Regions from separate parts of the Homo sapiens genome. Here region 1 is linked to region 2. The links come from fine-mapping of genetic effects on gene expression. A gene starts in region 2. The other region holds a variant in brackets. All regions are shown on one strand. Distances are between the middles of the regions. Region 1 overlaps CDC73 (cell division cycle 73). Region 2 holds the start of RO60 (Ro60, Y RNA binding protein).

What was found. PIP is the estimated chance that this variant, and not a neighbour inherited with it, causes the effect.
Region 1: its variant is the best candidate, but not a certain one, in a credible set for the expression of RO60 in tibial artery (GTEx, PIP 0.62).

The regions. Positions count from the first base shown.
Region 1 is chr1:193,161,579-193,176,834 of GRCh38, forward strand. All of the region lies in intron 10 of CDC73 (cell division cycle 73), which reads left to right. Among named protein-coding and RNA genes, the nearest start is that of B3GALT2, 17 kb to the right of the region's middle. The variant C/T (reference allele first, on the strand shown) is at 7,226.
Region 2 is chr1:193,055,379-193,069,434 of GRCh38, forward strand. It overlaps RO60 (Ro60, Y RNA binding protein), which reads left to right and starts at 4,234. Exons shown (of 9, transcript NM_001173524.2): 1 at 4,234-4,398; 2 at 13,656-14,056. The coding sequence starts at 13,677. It overlaps UCHL5 (ubiquitin C-terminal hydrolase L5), which reads right to left and starts at 3,982. Exons shown (of 11, transcript NM_001199261.3): 1 at 3,807-3,982. The coding sequence starts at 3,882. It also overlaps SCARNA18B. RefSeq lists enhancers at 3,334-3,643, 3,668-4,400, 3,804-4,333, 4,401-5,133.

The DNA of each region.
Region 1 (15,256 bases), 110 kb after region 2:
ATAATATATAATAGATAATATATAATAGATAATATATATTATATGATAGATATATAATATATTATATAATATATAATATATTATATATCTATCATATAATATATATAATATATAATATATTATATATCTATCATATAATATAATATATATAATATATAATATATATCATATTATATTGTATATAATATATATCATATTATATTGTATATAATATATATCATATTATATTGTATATAATATATATCATATTATATTGTATATAATATATATCATATTATATTGTATATAATATATATCATATTATATTGTATATAATATATATCATATTATATTGTATATAATATATATCATATTATATTGTATATAATATATATCATATTATATTGTATATAATATATATCATATTATATTGTATATAATATATATCATATTATATTGTATATAATATATATCATATTATATTGTATATAATATATATCATATTATATTGTATATAATATATATCATATTATATTGTATATAATATATATCATATATTATCTATTATATTGTATATAATATATATTATATATTATCTATTATATTGTATATAATATATATTATATATTATCTATTATATTGTATATAATATATATTATATATTATCTATTATATTGTATATAATATATAATAAATATAGTATATATAATAGATAATATATAGTATATATGATATATTATATATACTATATATTATATATCATATATACTATATACTATATATTATATATACATATATATTATATATAGTGTATATATATATATACACATATGAAGACAGAGTCTCACTCTGTCGCTCAGGCTGGAGTGCAGTGGCATGATCTCAGCTCACTGCAGCCTCTGCCTCCCAGGTTCAAGCAATCCTCCTGCCTCAGCCTCCTGAGTAGCTGAGACTACAGGCGTGCACCACCACGGCCTGGCAATTTTTTGTATTTTTAGTAGAGATTTCACCATGTTGGCCATGCTGGTCTCGAACTCCTGACCTCAAGTAATCTGCCCACCTCAGGCTTCCAAAGTGCTGGGATTACAGGCGTGAGCCACCACACCCCGCCAGTTTAACATTTTTACACATTACAATTAAAATTGATTCAGTCTTTTATCATCCTCTACAGTGAATTCTGGACATTATCAATCCTGTAATCATTTACCTCCCCAAATTTGGTATTTTTGGAGAGATGCTCCAGTTTTTCTACAGTGTCTTTTTGTCATTTCTGTCTTATGTGTGGTGCCATAAATATTCTGGAATTGAATTCCTAATATATTTCATTATACCAAACTTGAGAACTAAAATAAAGCAGCTTTTTGATCTTTCAGAAGTTACTGAATTCTTACTTGTGTTCTATAGATGGCTTTTAGAAAATAACACCCCATTCAGCTTCTGATAGGATTATAATATTTTAGTAACTTATCTAGCTACACAAGGTATTTCACAATATCCTTAGGAATTACTGAGTTTTAGAGTGACAGAATAATTACCAATTATTCTGATAGTAAATTTGTAGGTACATTATAATTCATCAAGAACTTTGTGGGGTTGTGTGTGTGTGTGTGTGTGTGTGTGGGTGTGTGTGTATATTTTTTTTTTCCCCCTCCTAGAAAAGTTAACAGGCTGGGCGCAGTGGCTCATGCCTGTAATCCCTGCACTTTGGGAGGCTGAGGCGGGTGGATTCCTTGAGCCCAGAAGTTCGAGACCAGCTTGGGCAATTTGGCAAAATCCCGCCTCTACAAAAATATTCAAAAATTAGCCGAGCGTAGTGGTATGTGCCTGTAGTCTCAGGTACTCAGGAGGCTGAGGCAGGTAGATTGATTAAGCCCAGGAGGTCAAGGCTGTAGTGAGCCATGATTGCGCCACCACACTCCAGCGTGGGCAACAGAATGAGACCCTGCCCGCCCCCCAAAAAAAGAAGTTACTTTAAGAAGAAACTTCAAGAACGTAACTATTTAAATAACTTGATATTGGAAAATATTTTTCTTTACCTAGGTTAACTGCAGTAGACATAAATCATCTAATACTTTCTAATAAATTGATAGGTACCAATTTTGGGGCACCTGTGATAGACATTTGTATTATTTCTAACTTTCTGAGTCATCATTAATATTTTTGAAAAGTTTGTATAACTTTTAAAGCTTTAAACATCAGTGTAAAAAGGCTATAGTATAGTAGATTTTTTTGTTTTTTGAGATGGAGTCTCACTCTTGTCACCCAGGCTGGAGTGCAGTGGCGTGATCTGGATCAACTGCAACCTCCGCTTCCCAGGTTCAAGCTGTTCTCCTGCCTCAGTCTTCTGAGTAGCTGGTATTACAGGTGCCCGCCACCACACCCAGCTAATTTTTGTACTTTTTAGTAGATGGGGTTTCGCCATGTTGGCCAGGCTGGCCTTGAACTCCTGACCTCAAGTGATCGGTGGCCTCCCAAAGTGCTGGGATTGCAAGCATGAGCCACCATGCCCAGCCCAGTATAGTAGATTTTACAAAACTATGCTTCATTGTGTCATACTGGCAGTATTACATTTACATTTTATATTAGAAACCTCTTGTAGATCATCGAAGACTAGTCCATAGTACATAGTAACTGGTTCTAAGTGACTGAATAATTTCAGTCAACATATTTTCTGTGTAACAGATCAAAGGAGAAATAACTGCTGGTGATGAACAGCAGTGTGGAGGTTTTGTTGCCTATGGTTGATCAGCTGCCTGAATCCTGAGTTGTCTCATAGGGTGGCATTATGTTAGTAATTTGCTGTAGCCCAGAGAAAGGCTGAGAAACTAAGTAATGTTAGTATACCATGAGAAACTGATTCATTTTAATTAAGCTTATGAGAGTAGCATTTGAAATCAAATGCTGATTTATTAATTTGCAGTGATAAATGTAATTAACAAGGGCACTGGATTCTCACCTCTAGCACATAACATGTTCTCTGTGTAAAGCTACATTGGAAATCACAGTGTACTGTGCAATGAGCATATAATAAATTATATCCTTCAAATGTTTAGTGGTATTAAAGTAGTCTGTTATTTTTAACTCTTCATTAAAAAAAAGGACTTGTTGCAAGTCCAGGGTACCTTTCCCCTTGGGCACTGCTTAGATAGGTTTTGATTTGCCATTGTGATTTCTATTCCTTGTTGTGTCTGACTAATCCCTTGCCAGATGGATATGATGTGTTATTTCTTTAGATGTATAGATTACTGAGTCAACTTTAGGACTGTGTTTCATTCCATTCTATTTGATTTGTTAAAAAGTGTTGGTGAGGGAACTAGCTCTTTTGAATTTGGGATTTATAATGTAGATATCCAAAGGATCTGATTTATCACAGGAGAGGTGAGGAGCGATAGACTGACCTTTCTGCACGTTTGAGCTGTAAATTTAGGATTAGTCACATTTAGCTTTGTTGATTTGGAAGGGGAGAGAAGAGCAGGGATTTCCTGCTGGGTTTTGGAAATCTTTCTTTCTTTTTAAAGAGATGAGGTCTCACTACGTTGCCCAGGTTGGACTTGAACTCTGGGCTCAAGCCATCCTCCTGCCTTAAGTACCTGAGATTGCAGGTGTATGCCACTTTCCTCAGCATGGAAATCACTTTCTCTACCTTTCACTTATTACAGGTTGATAGTCAAATTAATGAGGCTCCTTAAACCTCACCCTCCCAATTAGTAATTTCAGTGCTGCAAAGACATTACAATTTAAGTGTTTCTTAGCATTGTATAAAAGTACTTAAGATTCAGAATGCAGTCAATATGAGTAAAAAATCAAATATGGTTAAAGTGCAAATAAAGTAGTATCATTGTAAAGTACAAATAGAGAAGTATAAAGAAGACTTTATGTATCAGTAGATAAGTAATAATTATATGTTGGGATGAACGTTTTACACAGTCTCAGGATGGACACATTAAAAAATTCTGCTGTGACATATTTGAAAGACGTGAAGATACATACAGCATAAATGCAAAGCATGAAATATTTTTCATAATTGGTGGATTGTGTAAAAGTTTTGTTTACATTTTACTCATTTGATTGTATTTACATAAAATGTATTTAGTGAAATTACCAGAACCATTTTCAGTAATAGAAGAAAATAATTAGTCTTTTTCTCTCTTTCACACATGGATGCATGCACATGCATTCGTATCTCTCTCTCCCTCCCACATATGCATAAAATTGATCAAAATGTGGTTGAGGTCTCCACTGGTACACTTAAGCTGAGCATGCTAACATTTGGTCTGTAAGGAACAACCTACCATTTTTATATGTGCCCTTATTTACTTACACTGTATTGATATTTGGTGTTTGCCCATAAAAATAAGCCAGCCATCCTTTCACTATGAGTTTTACATGTAAGTTCTGTTATGCCTTGTAATTTTAGGTTGACTTTGTTAAAAAACAATTATCAAGTTAGTCATAAAACCTAGTTTCCAAAACCAGTGTTTGTTATCTAAGCTGAACTCTTAGAAACTTTAATGTGAAATTATTTTTAATGATAATATAAAAATGAAGAGTCAGGTATGAGCAAAAGTAAGTAATATAGCAGGAGTTTGTATAGTTTAAGTGCATTTTTTTTTCTTTCTTTCTTTTTGGAAACAGGGTCTTGCTCTGTCACCCAGGCTGGAATGTAGTTGTACAGTTAGAGCTCATTGCAGCCTTTATTTCCTGGGCTCAATCACTGCTCCCACCTCAGCTGGGACCACAGGCATGCACTGCAATGCCCAGCTAATTTTGGTATATTTTGTAGAGACACGGTTCACTGTGTTGCCCGGGCTGGTCTCTAACGATCCTCCTGCTTTGGCTTCTCAAAGTGCAGAGATTACAGGTGTGAGCCACTGCGCCCAGCCTTAAGTGTGTTTTCATTATTGCCTTACATTTTTTAGTCTACAGTGATTTAAAATGGTTTAAATGTAATGATTTAAGTTGGGGATTGACAAACCTCTTCTTTAAAGGGCCAGAAACTAAGTACTTTAGGCTTACAGGCCGATAGACAAAACCACGGAAATTATGTAGGTGCTTATGTAACAAGAGATAAATCAAATTTTCACACTTTTTTTCTTTTTTTTTTTTTTTGAGACCGAGTTTTGCTCTTGTTGCCCCTGGAGTACAGTGGAGCTATCTTGGCTCACCACAACCTCTGCATACCAGGTTCAAGCGATTGTCCTGCCTCAGCCTTCCCGAGTAGCTGGGATTACAGTTATGCGCCACCACGCCCGGCTATTTTGTATTTTTAGCAGAGACGGGGTTTCTCCGTGTTGGTCAGGCTGGTCACAAATTTTTAATGACAAGTACAATGCATGATAATAATGTGCAATACTGATTTGATAATGAGAATAATGGAATTTCTTTTTGGGTGTGAGGGAACATTTTGCTTAATTGAAGTTCCAAGTTAGTGTTCTCTATGACCAAAATTGATTGCAAATTCATCAATGCTGGTTTATAATGAGATTTTATGTATTATTTCAAAATTCATTAACTATGTAATTGGGGAACTTCCACATAACCCTCCTTTGGCAGTGATAAATCTGCAAATAATCAAGAAAATAGTGTAGTAGAATTCTTAGATGGACTAAATTTGCCCATCTGAGCTGTTTTCAGCTCCACACATAGTTTTAACTACCATTTGTTTGGTAGCATCAGCATCTTAATAGATTCCCCTTCAGGTTGTACTTCATTAGTGTTTTCTGAACTACTTTGAAATTACTCCTGCCTGTAGTTTTTTTATGTAGGCTACTCATAGAGGCTAATTCCTCAGCCACTTCAAAACATGATTTGGACTCCTCGAATAAACCATAACTGAGTGGTATTAGTAACATGTTAACAAGCGCCAAAGAAAACCACTCAGTCATTTGCCTTGACTTCTGATTGACAATTGATGTTGCTACACCATGACCTCAACTCATTAAGCAGTAGTGAAAGGCTAATAGTCTAAAACAAATTTATTTCCTCTGAATACATTTTTGACTGCTTTAATCAAATCAAATTTAATTAATTAACCATAGATTAACCATTTTCCTTCCCTGGCTAACAAGGAACCTCTCAAATTTGCTTCACAGCCTAATTTTAATTTTTTAATTTTTGTAAAGAAATTTTGTGTTTTCTGACCATTCCTTTCATCTGAGTTGGGAATGTTGCAATGAGGGCTTAGTCTGGTAATATTTATATTGTATTCTTTTAGCACAGTTGTAGTGTCATTGCATTAGATGGTAAACAGTGCTTTGCCATCTGATTTTATTGTACATTAAAGAGCATACTACTTTTCTTGTGTTTTTTTGTTGTTTTTTTGAGATGGAATCTCACTCTGTTGCCCAGTCTTCAGTACAGTGGTGCAATCTTGGCTTACTGCAACCTCTGCCTCCCGGGTTCAAGCAGTTCTCCTGCCTCAGCCTCCTGAGTAGCTGGGATTACAGATGCCTGCCACCACGACTGGCTAATTTTTGTATTTTTAATAGAGACAGGGTTTCACCATGTTGGCCAGGCTGGTCCCAAACTCCTGACCTCAAGTGATCTGCCCGCCTCCACCTCTGAGTGCTGGGATTACAGGTGTGAGCCACTGTGCCTGGCCTCTTTTTGTTTTAATGTGATGAGTAGGTACCAGCCTCTTTTTGTTTTAATGTGGTGTAGGTACCAGTAATTAAAAAAATAAAATTCAGATGTCCTTATGTGACAAAATGCTTGGCACACAAAATGCTGTGTTTTGCATTCATCCAGGAAATGTTTGCTGTGTGCCTGCTGTATGCTAGGCAGTATTGTAGGCCCTGGGGATATAAATAGGAGGGAGGACAAACAAAATTTAGTGTTACATGCTTTTTGGAGGATTAAAGTAAGGTAAAGCAATATAATTGCATTTTTTGTGATTTGTATTGTGCCAACTGGCAGTGCTAACTAAACCTGAGAGTACCACATAAGGTTTCTGTTGTCCATGTTTAACTCTGCCTTTTTTTTTTTTTGAGACAGAGTCTCTCTCTGTCACCCAGATGGAATGCAGTAGCGCAATCTTGCCTCACTGCACCCTCCATTTCCCGGGTTCAAGCAGTTCTCTGGCCCAGCCTCCTGAGTAGCTGGGATTACAGGCGCCTGCCACCATGGCTGGCTAATTTTTGTATTTTTAGTAGAGACGGGGTTTCACCAAGTTGGCCAGGCTGGTCTCAAAACACCTGACGTCAGGTGATCCACCCGCCTCAGCCTCCCAAAGTGCTGGGATTACACG[C/T]GTGAGCCACAGCGTCTGGCTGACCTCTGCTGTTTTAAAGGCAGTCATCGACAATAGGTAAATGAATGAGTTTGGTTGCATTACAGTAAATCTTTATAGATGCTACAATTTGAATTTCGTGTAATTTTTACATTTTAAATAATACTTTTGATTATCTAGATTTTTTTTTCAACCATTTAAAGTGTAAAAACCAGTCTTGGCCTGTGTGCCATACAAAAACAAGTAGCAGCCTGGATTTGGCTCACTGCTGTATTTTGCTTACTCTTGACTTAAATTTTTATCAGTGGATATGGAGGCAACTGTTTATTTCTAATTCAAGTAATTAGTACTTGTCTCATTTTATGTCTTTAGAAATTGATGTTTAGATGAATTTTAAGAAGGATGCTATTTAAACACACCCATACCTGGCATATGCATTAAGTAAAAATATGAACTTTAACATTAAATTTGTGAGAATGATGCTGGGTATGGTGGCTCACACCTGTAATCCTAGCACTTGGGGAGGCCAAGGCCGGTGTATCACTTGAGGCCAGGAGTTCGAGACCAGCCTGGCCAACATGGTGAAATCCTGTCTCTACTAAAAATACAAAAATTAGCTGGGCGTGGTGGCACATGCCTATGATCCCAGCTGCTAAAGAGGCTGAGGTAGGAGGATCACTTGAGCCCAGGAACCAGAGGTCACAGTGAGCCAAGATCACATCACTGCACCCCAGCCTGGGCGACATAGCAAGACTCTGTCTCAAAAAAAAATAAAAAATAAATTTGTAAGAATGGAGGCAGTTGCATAATGGCTGATGCCTATGTACTGTAGATAAAATTACTTTCCTGTTTATCTTATGAGATGCAAGAATATTAAATGAAACTTGTTAATGATGAATTTGGATTTTATAAAGCAATAAGAGGCAATGCTGTAAGATGTATTTCCAAATGAGTTTTTGAAAATAAAATCCTGACAAATATTTTTTCTTAGTGTGATCCCTTTTGTAATTTTATTTCTTTTTTTTTTAACTTTTAAGTTCAGGGGTACATGTGCAGGTTTGTTACACATGTAAACTTGTGTCATGGGGGTTTGTTGTACAGATTATTTCATCACCCAGGTATTAAGCCTAATACCCATTAGTTATTTTTTCTGATCCTCTCTCTCTGCTCTCCACCCTCCGACAGGCCCCAGTATGTGTGATTCCCCTCTATGTATCTGTGTATTATCATCATTTAGCTGCCACTTATACGTGAGAACATGTGGTATTTGTTTTTTTTTCCTGTGTTAGTTTGCTAAGGATAATGGTCTCTAGCTCCATCCATGTCCCTGCAAAGGATATGATCTCATTCTTTTTTATCACTGCATAGTATTCCATGGTGTATATGTAACATTTTCTTTATCCAGTCTATCATTGATGGGTATTTAGGTTGATTCCATGTCTTTGCTACTTTGACTAGTGCTGCAGTGAATATACGCATGCATGTGTCTTTATAATAGAATGATTTATATTCCTTTGAGTATATAACCAGTAATGAGATTGCTGGGTTCAGTGGTATTTCTCTCTTTAGGTCTTTGAGGAATCACCACAGTTTCTTTCACAATAGTTGAATTAATTTACACTTTCATCAACAATGTGTAAGCCTACCTTTTTCTACACAACTTTGCCAGCATCTTGTTTTTTGATAGCCGTTCTGACTGGCGTGAGATGGTATCTTTACTGTGGTTTTGATTTCCATTTCTCTAATGATTAGTGATGTTGAGCTTGTTTTCATATGATTGTTGGTGATGTATGTCTTCTTTGGAAAAGTGATCATGCCCTTTGCCTACTTTTTAATGATTTTTGTTGTTGTTGTTGTTTATTTGTTTAAGTTCCATATAGATGCTGGATATTTGACCTTTGTTGGATGCATAGTTTGCAAAAATTTTCCCATATTTTGTTGGTTTTCTTTTTACTCTGTTGATAGTTTCTTTTGCTGTGCAGAATCTCTTTTGCTTAGATCCTATTTGTCATCTTTTGCTTTTGTTGAGTTACTTTTGATGTCTAATTATCCCATCAAGTAAGTGCTACACCCTGAACTGGAGGCAACATCTTTCTAAAACACATCTGTGAGCAAAGGGGGCACAGCCACATTTTGTGGGAGATGCATTTCAGCATCAGGAGGCAGTTAAGTCTGCACAGGTTATCCAAGGACTATATGGATAACTCACAAGTGTTTACCCCTCCAGAGAAAAGCCCTGTGTGATAACTGCTGTCTTTCAACTGTGGAGACTGAGGCACACACTGGCAAGCAAATTGCTTTAGGAACTATTGGCAAACAGGATCAAGAAAGAATTAGCCTCTGCTGAACACTGCACATGGTTGAGTCTGTGTCCCAGCTATCAGGGTATCAATCTGTCTAGGTCCCAGCGATATTCCCAGTACCTGGCAGAGTTCTTGGGACAAAGTAGATACCTCTGTTCATTTTCTATTGTCACAGTAATAAATTACTAGAAGTTTGGCAGCTTAAAACATTCTCTTACAGTTCTGTAAATCCAAGGTTCAGGTATATCGTGGCTTAGGGAGAGGCCTCCACTTAGAGTCTCATAGACTGAAGTCAAGGTGTCAACAGCAATGTGTTCCTTTTGGGAAACTTAGGGGAAGGACCCACTTCCAAGTTCCTTCGGGTTGTTGATTGAATTCAGTTCCTTGTGATTTTAAGACTGAGGTCCCTGATTGTTTGCTGGATGTAAACTGAGGGCTAGTTCAACCTTCAGGAGGCCACTTGGTTCATGGCCTCCTTCATCTTGAAAGTCAGCATTGGTGGATACAGTCCCTCTCATGCTTTGACTCTCCCTTGTTCTTCTTCTCTTCTGCTGTGTTTCTCTCTAACTCTTCTCCCTTCCTCTTAAGGGTCCATGTGATTATACTGGGCCAATCAGGAAAATCTCCCTATTTTAAAGTTATCTGCAAAGTAACTTTGCCATGTAATGTTAAAATATTCACAGGTTCTGGGGGCTAGGGCGAATGGAAATCTTTGGAGAACCATTGTTCTGCATACCACCACACTCAATCAATATTTTTTAATAAATGAAAAAAAGATGTATTTGTTAGTGTTGGAAGAATAAAAATTTTATGAATTTTTGGTTGCTTAATGTTAAACAGAGTTGATTTTTGTTTGTTTTGAGACAGAGTCTTTCTCTGTCGCCCAGGCTGGAGTGCAGTGGCATCTCAGCTCACTGCAACCTCTGTCTCCTGGATTCAAGTGATTTTCCTGCGTCAGCCTACCCAGTAGCTGGGACTACAGGTGTGCGCCACCACACCTGGCTAATATTTGTATTTTTAGTTTGGATGGGGTTTCACCGTGTTGGCTAGGTTGGTCTCAAATGTCTGACCTCAAGTGATTCACCCACCTCGGCCTCCCAAAGTGTTGGGATTACAGGCGTGAGCCACTGCGCCTGGCTGATTTTTGGTACCTTTTTTTTTTTTTTTTTTAAGAAAATTACTTAAAATGAGTAATATTTATGCTAAGATATCCAACTGATTTATAACAGCATATGATAAAGTTATGAGGTTTCTTTTTTTTGTATTGATTTGCAGTGGAAAGATAAGCAGTTGATTGGTGAGAGACTGCTGAGTTTGATGACAGATTAGGAGAGCAGGACAGTATAAATAGATTAGGGAAGAAGAGAGAATTAGTGAGCCAACCTTCCTGCAGGTTATAGAGCCTTTTATGTGTTCCTACCTTAAATATGCTAAGATCCGAGAGATGGATAGTTCATCCCAGTTAACATAAATGAAGAGTTCTCTTTCAGTTCTTGTCATTTTTTTGACAACCCGGGAACCATCTTGTATGGCCCACTTGCCTAAGTCAAGCATTCCATCACTCTTCCATTCAGACGTTTTGCTTTCTATCAGTTGTGAAGACTACAGTTACCTGGCACTGCATCCTTTTTCCCTCTTCCTTTTGCCATCCTGTGTTCTGAATTGTCAGGTCCACCTAAATAGAAGGCCTAAACTTGATTGTTACTTGGTAACTTAAGACTATAAGATTATTGTTCCTAAACCATTGCTGTATCTAATACCAAGATGTACCAGTTTGATCAAAGACTTAATTTTCTAGGCCCAGACAACTGACATAATGGATTTAGGTTTATTTTTTCTTTGAAATGAGTGCATGAGTGCCTTAAGATAGAGTACATAGTCAAAAAATATGAATACTATAGCAAGTTTTAGGGATTCTTGCAGTCTTCCTGAGCACAGTGGTGGAGAAAAGAGGAAAATCCCTGGTTACATTGCACACTCATCAAGTCAGGCAACCTGGCCTAGGGCAACATAAGCCTAGAGAAAGGAGTCTTGTTCTCTGGTTTGCTCTCTGCAGGTTGTGCTTTTTTGTGATCTTTTTCCTTTAGAGAGGCTCCTTATTGTGAAGCAGCTGTTAAAAGGGTATGCCTTATTCTATTTCTTTTTCTTGGTTTTCTTAATTACTTAATTATAAAACATTTCTAACGTAAATATAATGAGAGAAAATAGCACGTGATCTTCCATCTTCCCATCACACAGATTGTATAATTACCATTTTTAAAGGCTCTCCTTATCTGTTCCACCTCTTCCTTTTTTTTCTAAAGTATTTAAATGCAAAATCTAAACACTGTGATTTTGTTCCTGCACACTTTGCCTCTCTTAAACATATGGACATCTTTTACATAGCCACAGTGCCATTGTATACAACAAAATAAATAATATTGATGTAATCCTAACACACAGTTCATTTTACAGTTTCGATTTCCTGAAAATTGTCTTTTTGTAATTCGTTTGTTGGAAATAAGACCCAAACAAGCACCATAAATTGCGTTTAGTTGTTAGGAATCTCAAGTATCTTTTGCTGTAGTTCATAATTTTTTTGTGCCATTGGTGCATTTGGCAGACTGGAAATCCTGTGAATCCTCTTTCTGAATATATTTTTAAGGCATAAAAGAAAATACATAAGATAAAACCAATTGTATTTAAAGTAAAATCAAGATATTTTTTAAAAACACATTTATGACATGATTTGTGCTTCTTTACTAATGCATTATGTAACATGATCTAGTGGCAAATTTGATAAATACCAGATTTTAGAAGTCTAATGAGCATATGTAATTTTGGGATATCTTTATTCTAATATGTTATGAAAAAATCTGATTTTTGTTGGTGACAAAGTTGTAACCATTTATAATAATAATACTGTGGTTTATCTGCATTCCTGAAGAAAGTCTTAATTTCATTAAGAGATTAATGAAAATAAAATTGTAAATTTTTTTCCCATTACGTTTCTTCTGAATTCTATCCACAATTCCATGCTCTAAAGGGGCAGTACATATTAAGAAAGGTCTTGGCTACAAGTCTTCTCGGTGGCTTTTTCTAAGTTTTTCAACAACTTGACAAGTTCTTTACCTCTTAGCCTTTCTCCTTCCAGTTGTTTGTCTGGAACATTCTTCCTCTTGCTCTTAATAAGACTGATTCCTTCTCATAATTCAGATCTCAGTTCATCAGCAACTTTTTCAGGACCCTTTTTCTTCTAGTTATCTTGTTGTTCATTTGTTTCCTTTGATAATCTTTCTTTAAATATATGAATTTGAAGGTAGAAACTATGTCTTTCTTGCCTTCCACTATATCTCCAGTACTGAGAACAGAGTATTTTGCATGTAAATGTTGCTTGAAAAGTATTTTCAAATGAATCTGAAGCCTATGTTATACATTATATTTTTAGTTATTTTCCATACTTTCATATGGGTGTAGAGTGGTAATTGTAATTCATTATTACTGTTAATGATGCTTTGTAATATATAGGCCCTCAAGTGCCACTTGACAATCCTTTCATACATTGCTTGGTGATTCTTTATTACATTGTTCCTGGCGAATCAGATTCTTTATACAGTGTTTTCTTTCTCAGTAAATGGCACTGTCAGTGTTCAGGCCAGTGTTCTAGGCATCATCCTTGTCACTTACTCCTCTCTCATCTCTAGTATCCAGCCATCATGAAGGCCTGTAGACCTTACTTGCTGACATCTCTGGAATTCCTTCTCTCCATGTCACTACTACCCTTTCTCACTATAGAGAAAACTTGATTTGATACTGTAAAACATTTTCCTTTAAATGAAATGAAAATGCTTTAAACGAAAAGAGTGAGACTGTTTCATTGAGTCAAGTTGTAATTCACTATTCCTTATCCAGGAATTTTTTGTTTTTTTCTTTTAAATAAGTCTCGAGGGAGAGAGAATAATTTACAGTGAGATAGAAGGTATGAATGGGATCAAAAGATTGGGTAGAGGGATTAGCTTTAGCAAGGAAGAGAATCATTTATGGGCCTTGTAGCTGGCCAAGGGTTTTAGGGATTTTGGTATATAGTACCTTGAGAAGCCATTGAAGCAGTGGGATGGCATGCCTAGCTTTGTGTTTTGAAAGTAACATTATGGCTGTAATATTGGCAACAGATTATGTGGATATGAGGAAACTGGCTATAAAGGTATTGCAGTAGTTAAAAAATGAGTGATGCTGTTTTAAATAGGGGCAAGATGAAGAAAAGTAGATGGATTCCAGTAGGGATCCAAGTAAGTCTTTGGGTTAAATGGATATGGGCAATAGCAAGAGAAAGAAGTGGCAAAGGTGATGATAGAAGATAACTTAGGTTTTAGTTCATATTAAGTGTACATGACTTACAGACATACAGACACAGTTGGCACTTCATATCCGTGGGTTCCACATCCGTAGATTTAACCAACTGCCGATCGAAAATATTAAAAACAAAAAACAAAAAAACCAAACCCAGAACGCCTGTGCTGAACATGTATAGACTTTTGTGTGAGTTATTTTTTTCTTAAACAATACAGCATAACAACTATTTACATAGCATTTAAATTGTATTAGGTATCATAAGTAATCTAGAGATTACTTAAAGTATGCAGGAGGATGTGCATATTTTATATGCAAACAGTATGCCATTTTATAAAAGGGACTTGAGCATCTGTGGATTTTGGTGTCTGCAGAGAGTCCTGGAGCCAATTCCCCACAGATACAGAGGTATAATTGTACTCTAAATTAGAGGTTTTGCTTATGACCTTTGATTAAAACTTTACTTTTGTAAAAATCAAGTTTACTTGTCTTTTTTTTGCTCAGTTATTAGCTTTCTCTCTGAAGTATATAGGAGTCATTCTCTTCCCTCTCTTGCATGAATCTGTTAGGAAGAAGATTGTAGTTATTTTTTTTTCATTAACCTTTTCAGAAGACAAACAGATCCCTGATAAGGGAATAAAATTTTAAACACATTTTTAAAACAAATTTTAAATGTTAAGCAAATGTGAAACATTGGGCTAGTTTTCTTTGTTCATTAATTTCTAGGCTCAGACAACATTTTGCATTGTATCAGGCCCAGGCAGTCAGTTTTTGTGGTTACTTTTGGGGCTGTGTTGGCCCTCCCTCATGGTGGTGTGACCCTAGGAACATAGGCCCCTAAACCGTTTCCCTGATCTTTTCCCAGTAATAAGGCATTTATTGCAACATAGCATCAACTCCATTATGTTGTATACACAAGAACTGTTTTGCTTTTTTGAGGCTTGGTCATGGATACTGATTATGAACAGACAAAAAATCTTCAGCATGTCCTCTTTAGGAGAAGTTGTCCTTGGATCCATTTGCCAAGGATTTGTTTAGGTGGCATAGCAGACAGAGGACATTGTCTTACAGAGCATTAAAGAATCATCATAGGAGCAGCAAACAATTTTATTACTGTAAAATTTGGTGGTAGTGGGTTTTCTATCCCATTTTAGTATTTAATATACATCATCTGCCTTCTGGGATTAATGTCTAAATGATACATTGAAATTCTTGGAGATGCCTTAGAAATGTCTGTCAATAGGAATTTTTTTTCTACTTTTTAAGGCTATGTTAATCTCATAGTGAAATTTCCTAGTTAAACAGTAAAAAATAGAAAATTTATCCAAATAGTCTGGATGAACTGGTTTTACCTTCTCATGACAAAATGGTAGGTGACCAAACAGTAGGATGGGTAAATGCAGTTCTACTTTTATCTATT
Region 2 (14,056 bases):
ACAGCCTCACTACTTGTGCAGCATCCACCAGAGCCCACCTCCAGCCTCATGGACTTGGAGGAAAAGGCAACCAATGTGAAAATGAATCTCCTGCTGCCTACTATGCTATAAGTAATACAACCCTTATCTCTAAACCAAAAGTTGTCTGCTAGCATCTATGAAACTGGCAAGCCAACTTATTTGCTGGCAAGCAGGATAAAATCTAACACTTAATAATTCTTAACAGATGTTAGATTTTGTCAAATGCCTTTTGCATCTATTGACATGATCATGTTTTTGATTTTTTGGCTTATTAATATGGTGCATTACATTGATTTTTTAAATGTTAAACCAATCCTAAATTACTGGGGTAAATCCCACTTAGTCATGATGTATTGTTCACTTAATGAATTACTAAATTCAATTTGGTAAAATGGTTTAAAATTTGTACATTTAAGTTAATGATGGATATAGGTCTGCAATTTTCTTTTCTAGTAATATCTTTGTCTGGTTTGGTGTCAGGATAATGCTGGTCCTCAGAAAATGAGTTGGGAAGCATTCCTTCCTCTCCAATTATTTTGGAAGAGTTTATGTAGAATTGGTATTATTTATAATATTAAATATTTGATAGAATTTACCAGTGAAGCCACCTTGGCTAGAATTTCTTTGTGGGAAAATTTTAAACTACAATTTCCATTTCTTTAATAAACACAGGGCATATACTGGTTATCTATTTCTTAAGTGAACTTTGGTAATTTGTGTCTTTAAAGGAATTTGTACATTTCATCTAAATTGTCAAATTTATTGGCATAGTTGTTCATAATATTATTTTTAATATCTGTAAAATTTTAGTGATGTCACCTCTCTCATTCCTATACTGAAATACAGGAACATCTCTTTTTTTCTGATCAGTCTGGCTAGAGTGATTCTATTGATCTTCCCCAAAAAACAGCTCTTAGTTTCATGTATTTTCTCCATTTTTTTCTCTTTTCTGTTCCACTAATTTCAACTCTGATCTTTATTATTTCCTGTCATCTGCTTACTCTAGGTTTTCTACTTTCTTATTAAAATGAAAGCTGGGGTCACTGGTTTGTTGTAAGAAAAATGAATCTAGTCCCCATTACTCTATCTTGGCTGTAACCAAATATTTACAGCTTCTGTTTTTATTAACAGACCATCACGGTTTGTTTTGGCACACATATGTATTATGTGTGGACCATACCAATTAAAAGTACAGTTCTGCTCCACCAGTTTCTTAATTTAATGATACTACATTCTACCAAAATCTGTATTTACATACTTACTGCATCTACAATTCATTTCCCTTTCAATGATGGAACTTTTGAAATGAATTTATGACAGCATTCACAATACAGGTATTTCATTTTTGAAAGAATCAACAGCCAAAAGCTTTTTTAAATCTATAAATTGGGTGAAAAAATGAAAATGATGGAAATAATTGGAATAAACTGATTTTCTCTTTGAAGCATCTGATGGTGACATAAACTACCACCATTTAATTGTTTGCAGGTTCTTCTGCTAATGAAGCCAATTTATTAATAGCTGCTGATTTTTCATATGTGCATGTACAGAAGATGAATTTATATATCATTCTTTCATGCATGATCTCCAAGTTTTCTGCACATATGAAATTGAAGGAGTAAAAACAAACTTACCTAGTACAACATTTCTGAAAGTTAACTTTAACATATTGTTAAGGTTTTGAACGTAAAATATATGACTAAATCTGCAGACATGTCAAACTCAGTGTCTGTCCAAATCTGAATCCATTTTCTTGTCCATCAAGCCTGCTCTTCACTTGTAAGAGTGTTTCACCAGCCACCCAGGCTAGAAACCAGGGAGTTATTTTTGCCTCTTTTTTTCCCCAACTTTTAGTAAGCAGTCCTTTTGATTTTTTTTCTCTTATGTAGGAGTAATATACTACCACTCAACCTCTACTGTAAGGTTGGCAGCCCTGAGAACTCCTTTTTTAATTTAGCGTGTTATGGATGTATTTCTGCTCCCAAAGGAATGAAGAGCAGACATTACCACATGCAACTGTTGATTTAAATATAGCAAACTTATTGAATCTAACTCCTCCTTCCTAACCCACTAGTTTAGCCAATCATCTCGGACTCCAACCATTTTAAGAGATGTCTAGCTTCTCTCACTTTATTCCAACCTGCCCTGCACACTTAAAAGCACAATAAACCTTAATTATGAAAATAATGTCATTTCAGCATTAAAATATATTTGATAGGTAAATCCCCAGTCACTACAGGGCAATTCAAACTATACAACATGGCATACAATCTGTCCTCAGTTTATCTTTTCAGTTTCAGATCCAAATAAATATTCCTCCAGTCTGCTATATTATGTTCTAGTCACTTTGCTAGCTGTTGGCTAACCCATATACTTTAACATCACTACTGTTTATGCTTTTCCTTCTGGCTGTGCTCCTCCATGACCTGTGTACTTTTAACATTTTGTATATACTCTAACATAGCAATTAACACACCATATTATAGTTTGACTGTCAATTATTCGAAACAGCAGTTATGGTTTATTCACATGAAAATTTCCCAATCCTTGGGTGGGCGCGTGGCTCACGCCTGTAATCCCAACACTTTGGGAGGCCGAGGCGGGTGGATCACGAGGTCAGGAGCTGAGACCAGCCTGGCCAGCATGGTGAAACCCTGTCTCTACTAAAAAAAAAAAAATTAGCCGGGCATGGTGGCGCGTGCCTGTAATCCCAGCTACTCGGGAGGCTGAAGTAGGAGATTCGCTTGACCCCGAGAGATGGAGGTTGCAGTGGGCCAAGATCGCGCCACTGCACTCCAGCCTGGGCGACAGAGCGAGACTCTGTCTCAAACAAAAAAAAGAAAATTTCCCAATCCTTACCACTGTGCCTGAGATATAGAAGATGAACAACATATGCTTGATAAATGACATTCCAAATATTAAGCTGTGTACAACAGGCAATATCTACATCAACGTTTAATTGTTAATCCCGCGTAAAAGTTTTAACATCGTAGAGTCAATAACACTTGGGAAATAGATAAAAACGTACTGTCCAAAGAAGAGACTAAGAACAAGATAAATAGGGAAGGATAAAAAGTAAAATGTGTTGATTATTTAGGACGAAAGGCACTAAATACAGCCAGAGAGAAACTGTGAGGAAAGCATGTGGCCTCTAGTCTAGAACACTAGCTCAAGAAAACTCACTTCACCGGAAGCCAGAAATGAGCAGAGAGCGGAACCAGTGAAGTGGCCTTTCAGGCCCACGCAGTCAGCGTGTGTGGACGTCCCGAAGAGCTATTCACACATTCAAGGCGTTCTGCTTTGAATAACCAGAATCTCGAGTTCCTGGGCGGCTTGAGCCGCAGACACCTCACCCTTGAGAAGGCGCACCCTAGGGTGGCTTCTGCAGGACTAATGGCCTGAGCAATGCACTTGACCTCACCAGCCCGGGATAAGGTGCGCGCCGCAGAGAAGGGGCAGTGCAAAGGGCAATACGTGCTTAAGAGCTTGGGGAGCGAGGGCCCTCAAGTCAATTACAGGATTTGGGTGCCAGGTCCTGAGGATGCAGCAGGCACAAGACTGACACGATCCTTGCCCTCGTGGTGTGGCTCTACAAATTACTGTGGAAACGCGACTGTCTCGAGCTGAGGAGAGGGCAGAACATCTACATTTCCCCCACCCGGACTCCAGGTTCCTGAAGTCACCTCTCCAGACGCGGGGCGGCGGTGGCCGCAGGGAACCACTCCATGCCCAGCTTGGGCCTCCTCCCGTGACCCCAGGCCCAGGACGGTCCCCTTGGTTCTCACCGAATCCTTTAATGAGCTCGGTGAAGACCCCGGGGTCGCTTTCCATGAGGCACCACTCCCCGGCATTGCCCGTCATGGCCCTGGCCACACACCGCCCCGATCCACCTCTCGCTCTCAGCTGCCCCCCGCACCAGCTGCCGCCGGCCACAGATCTCAGCAAACCCGCCGCCGAGCTCGTCAACCACACGTCACCCCGCCTACTTCCCGACAGCCTCCGGGCGCCGTCACCTGCAGCGCGACTGAGCGCGGGAGGACGCTCTAGCCACCCTAGAGACATCGAAACTCTTCCCAGGCCTTGCAGCACCCGTAGCGGATTCGGAAGGGCTGGGGCCTGAGAAGAAAGGGCGGTGATTCACAGCGCCGAGGAGGCAACATCCGGGATCCTCGCCCCTCTGGGGCGGAGGCGGGGCAAAAGAAGAGGGGCAGGACTCGTTCCCGGGAACCGAACCTGGAATCCCCGGCGGCAGTGGGGCTGTTGCTGTTGCTGTGGCTGTCGCTGCCCGTCAGGCTGCCTTCTTTTGTCGTTTCCCAGCGCTGCGCAGGACTTCTCCTGGCGGCGCTGCGGATCCAGGGGGTCGGCTGCCAGGTACAGGTGAGGACATTGCGGGAGGCCGGCTGGGAGCCTTTTGTGCGGCCCCAGGGACGCGCAAATTCTGACCAGTCCTCCATGTCTCTCACCCGCATCCCAGGGGTTGAGGCTGGGCAAACGCCGCGAAACTATCGCTCTTCCCCGTCCCGCTTCCGCGCCTGTCCACCCTGGGTAACGGAACCAGCATCGCGGTAGGGACATCCTCGCTAGGCCCGGCCGGACCATTCCTCAGGGTGGGCCCTTTCCGAAGCCGGGACCGCTCCTGCTTGTCGGCATCGCTCCCCACAGGCCGACGTCGAGAGGGCCTGCTTTACTCCTCCTCTTTCTCCTCCTTCTCCCGCGGCTTCTGCGCGGAGAGGCGTCGCCCGGGATCTGGGTTTTGGAAGAAGGATCTTTGTGGGAAGACAGGGTGAATTTATCACAGAGGAATAACGAGGGAGAGGAGAAAGGTTTGTCCATGGGGCTGCTAGACTAGTGGAAGGGGATGCGGTGCGTCAAGGGAAAATTAGGTTGAAAACAAATGTCGTGTATTAATCTAAAAACATTTGGAATGGTTCTAAAACTGGATGATGAGTTAAACCAAATATTTACTAAATATTTACTAAATTGCCCTCATTCAGCAGGCTCTTATAGAATACTATAGTGTTAAGATTAAAGTTTTTAAGAGTATATTGAAGTCGTTAAGTGTATATTTACTCCTTAAAAGCTACATATTCCAAGAAAGACCTTTGGCTTCCAGAAAAAAAAAATGTTTTAGTGGGTAAAACTCTGACTCCTTCCTTCTCAAATAGGTGACTTGTGCCCTGGAGTTAGGGAGCCTTGTGCTACAGATTATGTGAAGCCATGAAATAAACGTGGTAAATTTTATTGAGGGAAGCAACAGAGCAGCTTTTGTATTAAAAGGAGCCTGAGTACGCTATGGGGTAGAAGCCAAAATTTGTATGAAGTGTTGGTTTAAAAAAAATTTTTTTTGTAACTTTCTTGAAGTTTATCTCCGGAAACTCTGCCCTCAACTTGGAGACTAGGAGGATTCTGTACAGTATATTTCCTTGAGATACTTTATTGGAAAAGTTTAAGAGGCACAGAGTCCAGAATGATTGGCATCAGAGCCCAAAGTAGTTTGTGGTATTTTTTTTAATCTGTAATATTGCTATGAACTTGAAAATGTTTTCTGTGCAAAATACATCAAAACTAAAATGTACTTGATACCCAACTTAATTAACATGGTACCTATTGTAGAAAGACCAAACTGAAAATTTAGCCTTTGGCACAATCTAGAAGTAAGCAGAGAAGGGGGTTAAGATGCCTTTCATTATGTTAACGTTTAATCCTGAGAGTTTACATAAAAAGCCAGATTTCTGGGTCTTTGAGAAAAATGAGATCTGGCAACTACTAGTTCCATACCACGTGGCAACCAGTTGGCAGCTCCCCTCAGACTAGCATGCTGTCATTTTTGCCACAGTTCCTTCCTCATCAGTTTTTATAGCATCACATTGATCAGTGGATTCAGATACCTGTATCATGGGTAAACAAACCTCTATCATGGGCCCAATTTTCTATTGTTGTTTCTTTACATTTGTCATGCACTCTCATAGATATGTCAGCTTTGACTTCATTTAAAAAGGAATAATCTGCAAATGTGTTTGACTTCTTGAGATGAAAGGCAGCATTTTCAAATAAATTATAAAGAGACTTTGGAAGATATTGAGATGTGTAAATTCAAGAAAAATGTAGGATTCCTTGGAAATAACACATTAGTACTGATAAAAGATACTGTATATGCTGTAGTTCTGATGATTGTGAAACAAGTGCTATTATATAATGTGTGTTACTAGCATTTCCTGATTTTGCATTCTAAATTAAATTTAAAAGTAGAGAAATGGACATTGTATAAAATATCCACAACCAATTTAATATGCGGCCATGCTTGGCCGGGCACCGTGGCTCACGCCTGTAATCCCAGCACTTTGGGAGGCCCAGGCGGGTGGATCACGAGGTCAGGAGTTCAAGACCAGCCTGGCCAACATGGTGAAACCCCGTCTCTACTAAACATACAAAAAATTAGCCGGGTGCGGTGGCAGGCGCCTGTAATCCCAGCTACTCAGGAGGCTGAGGCAGGAGAATCGCTTGAACTCGGAGGGCGGAGGTTACAGTGAGTGGAGATCGCGCCACTACACTCCAGCCTGGGTGACAGAGTGAGAGTCTGTCTCAAAAAAAAAAAAAAAAGTGTCCATGCTTTTAATATTATAGTATTGTAATATTTAACTTCTCAAGAACTTAATTTATAGAGATTTAATACAACATTAGTTGTATGGTGTGTTTTAAGAGCACTAGATAGATAGGTCAGGCCCATCCAAAGAATTAACTATATCTTTTTGTTGTTAATCTGGATTTACAACACTTGATTATCCAGGAATGGATTAACTGATGACCAGGTTCTGACCTCACTCACTGCCCAATTGCCTTCTAAACCACTGATAATGGAGCTTAAGCTTTGAGGCAGGAGATGATGGCAGTTGGAGAAAGAAGAAATTAAGTTGCTGTATATGTCTTGTGGGTATCTCAAATTGCTTTTAAAAGTCAAATATAAAAATTGTAGGGCTAAATATAATTTTTGTGTAATCAATTGTATTGGTGCTCTCCATTCTGATATAGATAATAGCAGAGTTAAGTGCTTGTTTATTTAAATAACTTTCCAAATATATTTTACCTGGCTAGTTTATGTTTGTATTTTTAATAATAGATTTTTAGAATATAATTCACATATCATGAAGTTCACTATTTTGAAGTATCCAGTGCATTGGGTTCTAGTATATTCACGGAGTTGTGCAGTCATCACCACTAATTTCTGAACATTTTCATCACCCAAAAAGAAATCCCCTACCCATTAGCAGTCACTTCCCAGTGTTCCCCCACTCCGACAGCCTCTGACAACCTTAGACTAATGTACTTTTTATTTCTATGAATTTACCTACTCTGGAAAATTCATATAAATGGAATTGTAATACAATATGTGGCCTTTTGTGACTGGCTTCTTTGACTTGGCATAATGTTTTCAAGGTTTGTTTACATTGTGTCATGTATCACTACTTCATCCCTTTTTATTGTCTAATAATAGTCCATTGTATGGATATACCATATTTTTTTCATCCCTTCATCAGTTGATGGACATTTGGGTTGCTTCTCCTTTTTGACCGTTATGAGTAATGTTGATAAAAACATCTGGATACAACTTTTGGTTTAGATACATGTATTCATTTTTCTTAGGTGTGTGGTAGAATTCCTCGGTCATATGCTAACTATATTTAACCTTTTGAGAAACTGCCAGACTGTTTTCCAAAGTGGCTGTATGATTTTACATTCCCACCAGCAGTATATGAGCGTTTCATTTTCTCTAAATCCTCACCAACACTTAATATTATTGTTTTGATTATAGCTGTCCTAGTGGATGTGAAGTGGTATCTTATTGTGGTTTTGATTTGCATTTCCCTGATGACTAATGATGTTCGTCATCTTTTTATGTGTTTACTGGCCATTTGATAATCTTCTTTGGAAAAACACCTTTTCAGATTCTTTACCCATTTGTGTGTCTTTGGAGTAATATTCACATCTTTTGCCTATTTTTACTTGGGTTATTTATCATTTTATTATTAAGTTGTAAGTGTTCTTAATATATTCTAGATACAAGTCACTTATTGTATGTATGATTTGCAAATATTTTCCTTTTTCTTGGGTTGTCTTTTCACTTTCTTGATGGTGTCCTTGGAAATACAAGTTTTAAATTTTGATAAAGTCCAGTTTATTTTTTTATTTTGTCACTTTTGCCTTTGGTGTCTGCGTTCCAACACTAATTCTGTAGCATCAGCTGGGTGTCCCCCACTTCCGTTTAGTTCTGGCACTAGCTGCCCAGGGTTGGCATCAGATCCCACAAATTAAAGGACAAGGTCCCCACTAAGAATGCCATTAATTTGGACACCAGCTGTAAATGGGGTCCCCAGGCTACTCACACTTCTGCCCTGCGGACTACAAATTCAAGACTTCCCATAATCCCCTCAAGGCTGATAGTTCACTAGAATGACTCACATAACTCACTGAAAGTGCTCTACTTGCAATTACAGTTTTATTATAAGGGATACAACTCAGGAACAGCCAAACAAGAAGTAGACACATATGGCAAGGTCTGGGGCAAGGGAAGGATGCAGAACTTCCATGCCATCCTTGTGAAATGTGGGATACAACTCAGGAACAGCCAAACAGGAAGTAGACACATATGGCAAGGTCTGGGGCAAGGGAAGGATGCAGAACTTCCATGCCCATCCTTGTGAAATGTGGGCACATCACCTTCCCAGCACATCAGTTTTTGTTCACCAAGGATGCTCCACTGAGTATCGATGAAGAAAGTTTTTATGAGGTTTCATCACATGGGCATGATTGATTAAATCATTAGCTACATGGCTGAACTTGATCTCAAGTCCTCCTCCTTTCATGGAAGGTTGGCCTGACCAGTTTATTCCTCTAAACATATAGTTGGTCTTTCTAGTGATTAGCCCCCATCCTGAAGCTACCTAGGGGCCCATGTTGCCTCATTAATGTAACAAAGACACTCCTATTTCTCAGGAAATACCACGGGTTTTTGAAACTTTCTGCTGGGTATTATGTCCAAAGACCAGGTACTCTCTCTTATAAGATGCCACAGTATCACATCACTTTGCCGAATTTTGAGTTTATGTGTGTATCACACTCAGTGACAAGAAGGAGAGTAACTTGGGACATGTTATTCTGTTTTCTGTCTTTTAAAATATGAATATGACCCTGGTAAATTTATATAATCAAGTAGGAAGGTGCCCTGGCTGCTAATAATGTTATCTGTTCCACTGTTTTATGTTGCACTCTGGAAAGTACAGTCACAGAAGCATAGGAAAACCTGAGCAGTTTCTGCTGCAGAAATACTGAAAGGGTATGTCCTCAGGGTTGTCATTTATATCATAACATGCAAAAGGAAGAGTCCATGAATAAGTAACTTTATTTCTTCTAATAGGGATTATAAGGATTATACTTAGAGATTACCTCTTAGACATCCTTCATAGATTTAAAAGTTCATTTTGCTGCTTGCTCTAGAGAAGTACCTGAATACCTAATATTAAATATGTTAGAAAAACAGAAATTTTGTTCTTAGATGACATTTTTACTCAGTATTCATTACTTTTCTTTAGAACTTTATTTTTTCTTGATTATATTTTTCACTACCTGCATATAGTACATTTATCATTCTGATTACAGAATTTATCTTAAAGACTTGTATTATATTTTGCATTATAAATATTGAGGCTTTTATTCTCAAAATGTGTTATGGGAAAGAGAAACCAATTGTGCATAATTATTTGGCAAATGGTTCAGAAAGTCAACTTTAATGATATTTGGCTTTAAGTATGTATTGCTAATTACATAAAAGCAATACAAAAGAGGAGACAAAAATGATAAGATTTGGTTTCTACTTTCAAGGGAACCAATAATGTAGCTACATGTGGTCACAATGAATAATACAAGGAAAAGAATTTGAGGGGAGAGGGAATTTTGAGGTTTGGTTTGGGACCTTTTAAATCCCACCACTTGGGCCTTGGTGCAGGAAAGCAAGTTTAGTAGAATTATCTGATATTAGATGTCATTTCAGTGTTACTCATCTAACAAATAAAACTAATAAGCAGAAGTAGACAGGTTGAAGTGCAACCAGAGCCTGTTTTTATGAAAGCTGAGGGAGAGACTAGCAAAGTCTATGTAATGTAAAGATCAGAAAAACATAACATTGTCTACTGGAATTGGCAATTAAGGTATCAGTCTTTGAGAAGCATGTTAGTCTTCTTAAAGTGTTTTGGATCGAAAGGTAGAGATAAAAGCCAAATTTGAAAAGAGGATAATAATAAATAGGAGAACAGGCATCCACTGCAACAGGAGTTTCAACCTATGCTGTATTCAGTAACTATGAATTTGTCCCTAATGACTAATATGATCATTACATCTCTGATGCCACCTGAGACCTAGGCTTCCACTAACATAAGCAAATTTATACTAGCGTCTTATTTGGAATATTGACACTAATATTCCGAACACAATTCAGATCACTGTCCCCCTCAGTCACATTCAAAATGTGAGGCTCTTCATTCTCCCATGCACTTATCCCTACACCACTATGTGTTCCCCTCTCTGAGACCCAGTCTTTCATTCCTCCCCTCTCTACCAAACTTCTCCACATACCATTTGGCATTCTACATCTCCTGTCAGGGGGGAATGTCTTCAGTTTCCTTATCCCTCATTCCTTCAAATCTATCTTTACCTATACTCTTTACCCTTAAAAGATAAAGGAAATATCTCTTGCTGTCAGTAGGCCAGTCTCAACCTGGATGCTCTAAGCTCATTCTCATTTCTTTAAGAAATTCCTTCAGTTATCCCCCTTCTCTACTGTATCTTCAGCTCTCCAAATTGAATCTTTCAATGTTAGCATCTTCCCATTGAAAAAGGTAAAAAGATTTTTTCTCTAAGTCCCATCCTCTTTTACTTTCCTTCATAGTTTATAAGTATGTGTCTACAAAAGAGTAGTCTAGCTGTGAAGTTTCTTCCTCACTGCATATTCTCCTGATCTCACTGTAATCAAGCTACTTCTTATACCACTCTACTGCAGTTGCTCTCACTAGTCACTCCTACTTGCTAAACCCAGTGGTCATTTTCTAGCCTTTTATTTACTTTTCCTCTGACCATTTGAAATTACCAACCATTCACTCCTTGAAGTTCTCTTCCTTGTAGTCCATGATACTATTCTCTGTCGGTTTTCTTCAACTCTGTGCACCTCCTTTTCCGTCTCTCTTTAAAAGGCCTTTCTCTCATTAGCTTTTAATGGTTAATATTCACCAAGATTCTATCCTTAGCCTTCCTTGTAATATATAAACATGTTCAAGTAAGCATGATCTTCAGAACAAAACTTCTTTTATCTTGTGTTCCTCTTTAAGTTATGACCGTATCTGTCAACATGTCTTTATGGCTCTACAGGATGCTTAGACAGTTTCTTTTCTAGAATATAAAGACAGATCGAGATTTCAGAAACCTCTTCCTGGAGCGCCTTCCCTAAACTTTATCAGTTTTTTAGTTTGCCTTCTCTGCTCAAATCCTTCTGGATTATTTAGACAGTATTATTTTATACTTCCTTGCTCACTCACTTTTCCACTACAGCACTTAATCACAATTTGCCTTCTCTGCACAAATCTTTCTGGATTATTGAGACAATATTATTTTATACTCCCTTGCTCACTCATAATACTTTTCTACTACAGCACTTAACTACAGTTTGCATTGTGATTCTATCCCCACAAATGAGTGTGATTTTCCTGTGATGAGGAGAAAAAAAAATTTTTTTTCTTTCTTTTTTTTTTTTTTTTTTTGAGACAGAGTCTCGCTCTGTCCCCCAGGCTGGAGTGCAGTGGCAGGATCTTGGCTCACTGCAAGCTCCGCCTCCCGGGTTCACGCCATTCTCCTGCCTCAGCCTCCCTCCTGAGTAGCTGGGACTACAGCGCCTGCCAACACGCCCGGCTAATTTTTTGTATTTTTAGTAGAGACGGGGTTTCACCATTTTAGTCAGAATGGTCTTGATCTGACCTCGTGATCCGCCCGTCTCGGCCTCCCAAAGTGCTGGGATTACAGGCGTGAGCCACTGTGCCCGGCCCAAATTTTTTTTTTTTAGTCTCTTTAATGGGAGAGAAATTGTCTTCATGTCTTACACATAGTATGTATTCAGTAAATGCTGGTTTAAGTTTTTGTTGGTTGTGCTGTTTTGTTAGCCATGGACAGAAGCCCAGTGCACCGAAATAACATGACAGATTGAAGGACCTCAATAAACAGTGATACTGTAGTAACAATAGTGGTGGACTGATGAAGAAGTGACAATTGTGGTTCCTCCATTAGAAGGATAAAGAGGGATGTTGTTTCCAGACAGCTAGTTCTAGGAGTTTTAGAGCTAATGGAAGGAGTAGAGTGAGGGTAGTTACAGATGACATAAAACCGTAAACCTAAAAATGGCTTAAACAATAAGGATACATTTATGACATAATAGGAAGTGTATAAGCAGGGCAGTTTCAGGTAACCCGATATCAAGGACCCAGGTTCTTTGTTTTTTCTGTTCTGCTCTCTTTATATATTGGTGTGCCATCTTAAACTGGCTTATCTCAAGGTCTGAAGATGGTTGTTACCACTCCAGGCATCACTTGCAAATGAAAATGTCAGAAGGCAGAAAAGGGAACATTTCTTTTTAAGAGCCTGAGCCCCCTTTTAAGACTGAAGAAAACCTCAAAAGTGTTCTCAGCTGACTTATCATGTCATACTGGCCAGTCATGACACATGCCCAACTCCCTATACCAGTCATGTGGCAAGGAGAGCACCATGATTATTGGGCCTGGGTCAAGCAGCAGCAGCAGCTGGGAACTTGTGATAAGTATACATGCTTAGGCCTCACTGCAGACCTACTAAATTATGAAAGAAACTCAGGGCAGTGCCTGAGAGGGCTGACCCACCAATCTATGTTTCAATTAGTAATTCAAGTAATTTTGATGTACATTGAGTTTGAGAACCACTGGCTTAGAGCAATAAAGATCCATCCCTTGGGGCTAGGGAAAGGCCTAGCCTCCTTTGAAGGATATGAGGCCAAGAAGAGGAGAAGAGAGAAGGGGGAAGAATGAATGTTAGATAGGCAACCAAACATGTTTACACAATTCTTCAGGGAGTATGATCTTTCTTACTTAGTGCCAGCTACTATTGCTGCCCTCCCTTCTTTTATTCTCTGTGTGGGCCTCAAGATGCCATACTGATCTACCTGCTTAATCTCTGAAGGAGCACACTGTATCTCAAAAATGTGACGCCTTAGTTGCTTCTGATTATCACACCACTGTGGCTATGATTTGTTTGTTTGCTGTGAAGGGCTTTTAGTTTCTTTAGATTATAAAAATAGGAATACAAAACAAAAACACTTTAAAAACTGAAGATATTACTGGTAGTCATTTCAAAGTATTCAGATATGGTTTTTTTCTTTCATTTTCTGCCTTTCCTGATTTTTCTTCAGGACATTTATATTGATTTTGTACTAAGGGAAAAACTATGGAACTTAAAAGATGTTTTTAAATTAAAAGAGTTAATAACATTTCAGTAAACCTACATTTTGTTTTCCTTTTGTAATTTTATTGTGCCCATCTAGTTGTAATAACATTTTGCCTTTTTGTTAGGTTTCCTAAAGACAAAAAAAAATGGAGGAATCTGTAAACCAAATGCAGCCACTGAATGAGAAGCAGATAGCCAATTCTCAGGATGGATATGTATGGCAAGTCACTGACATGAATCGACTACACCGGTTCTTATGTTTCGGTTCTGAAGGTGGGACTTATTATATCAAAGAACAGAAGTTGGGCCTTGAAAATGCTGAAGCTTTAATTAGATTGATTGAAGATGGCAGAGGATGTGAAGTGATACAAGAAATAAAGTCATTTAGTCAAGAAGGCAGAACCACAAAGCAAGAGCCTATGCTCTTTGCACTTGCCATTTGTTCCCAGTGCTCCGACATAAGCACAAAACAAGCAGCATTTAAAGCTGTTTCTGAAGTTTGTCGCATTCCTACCCATCTCTTTAC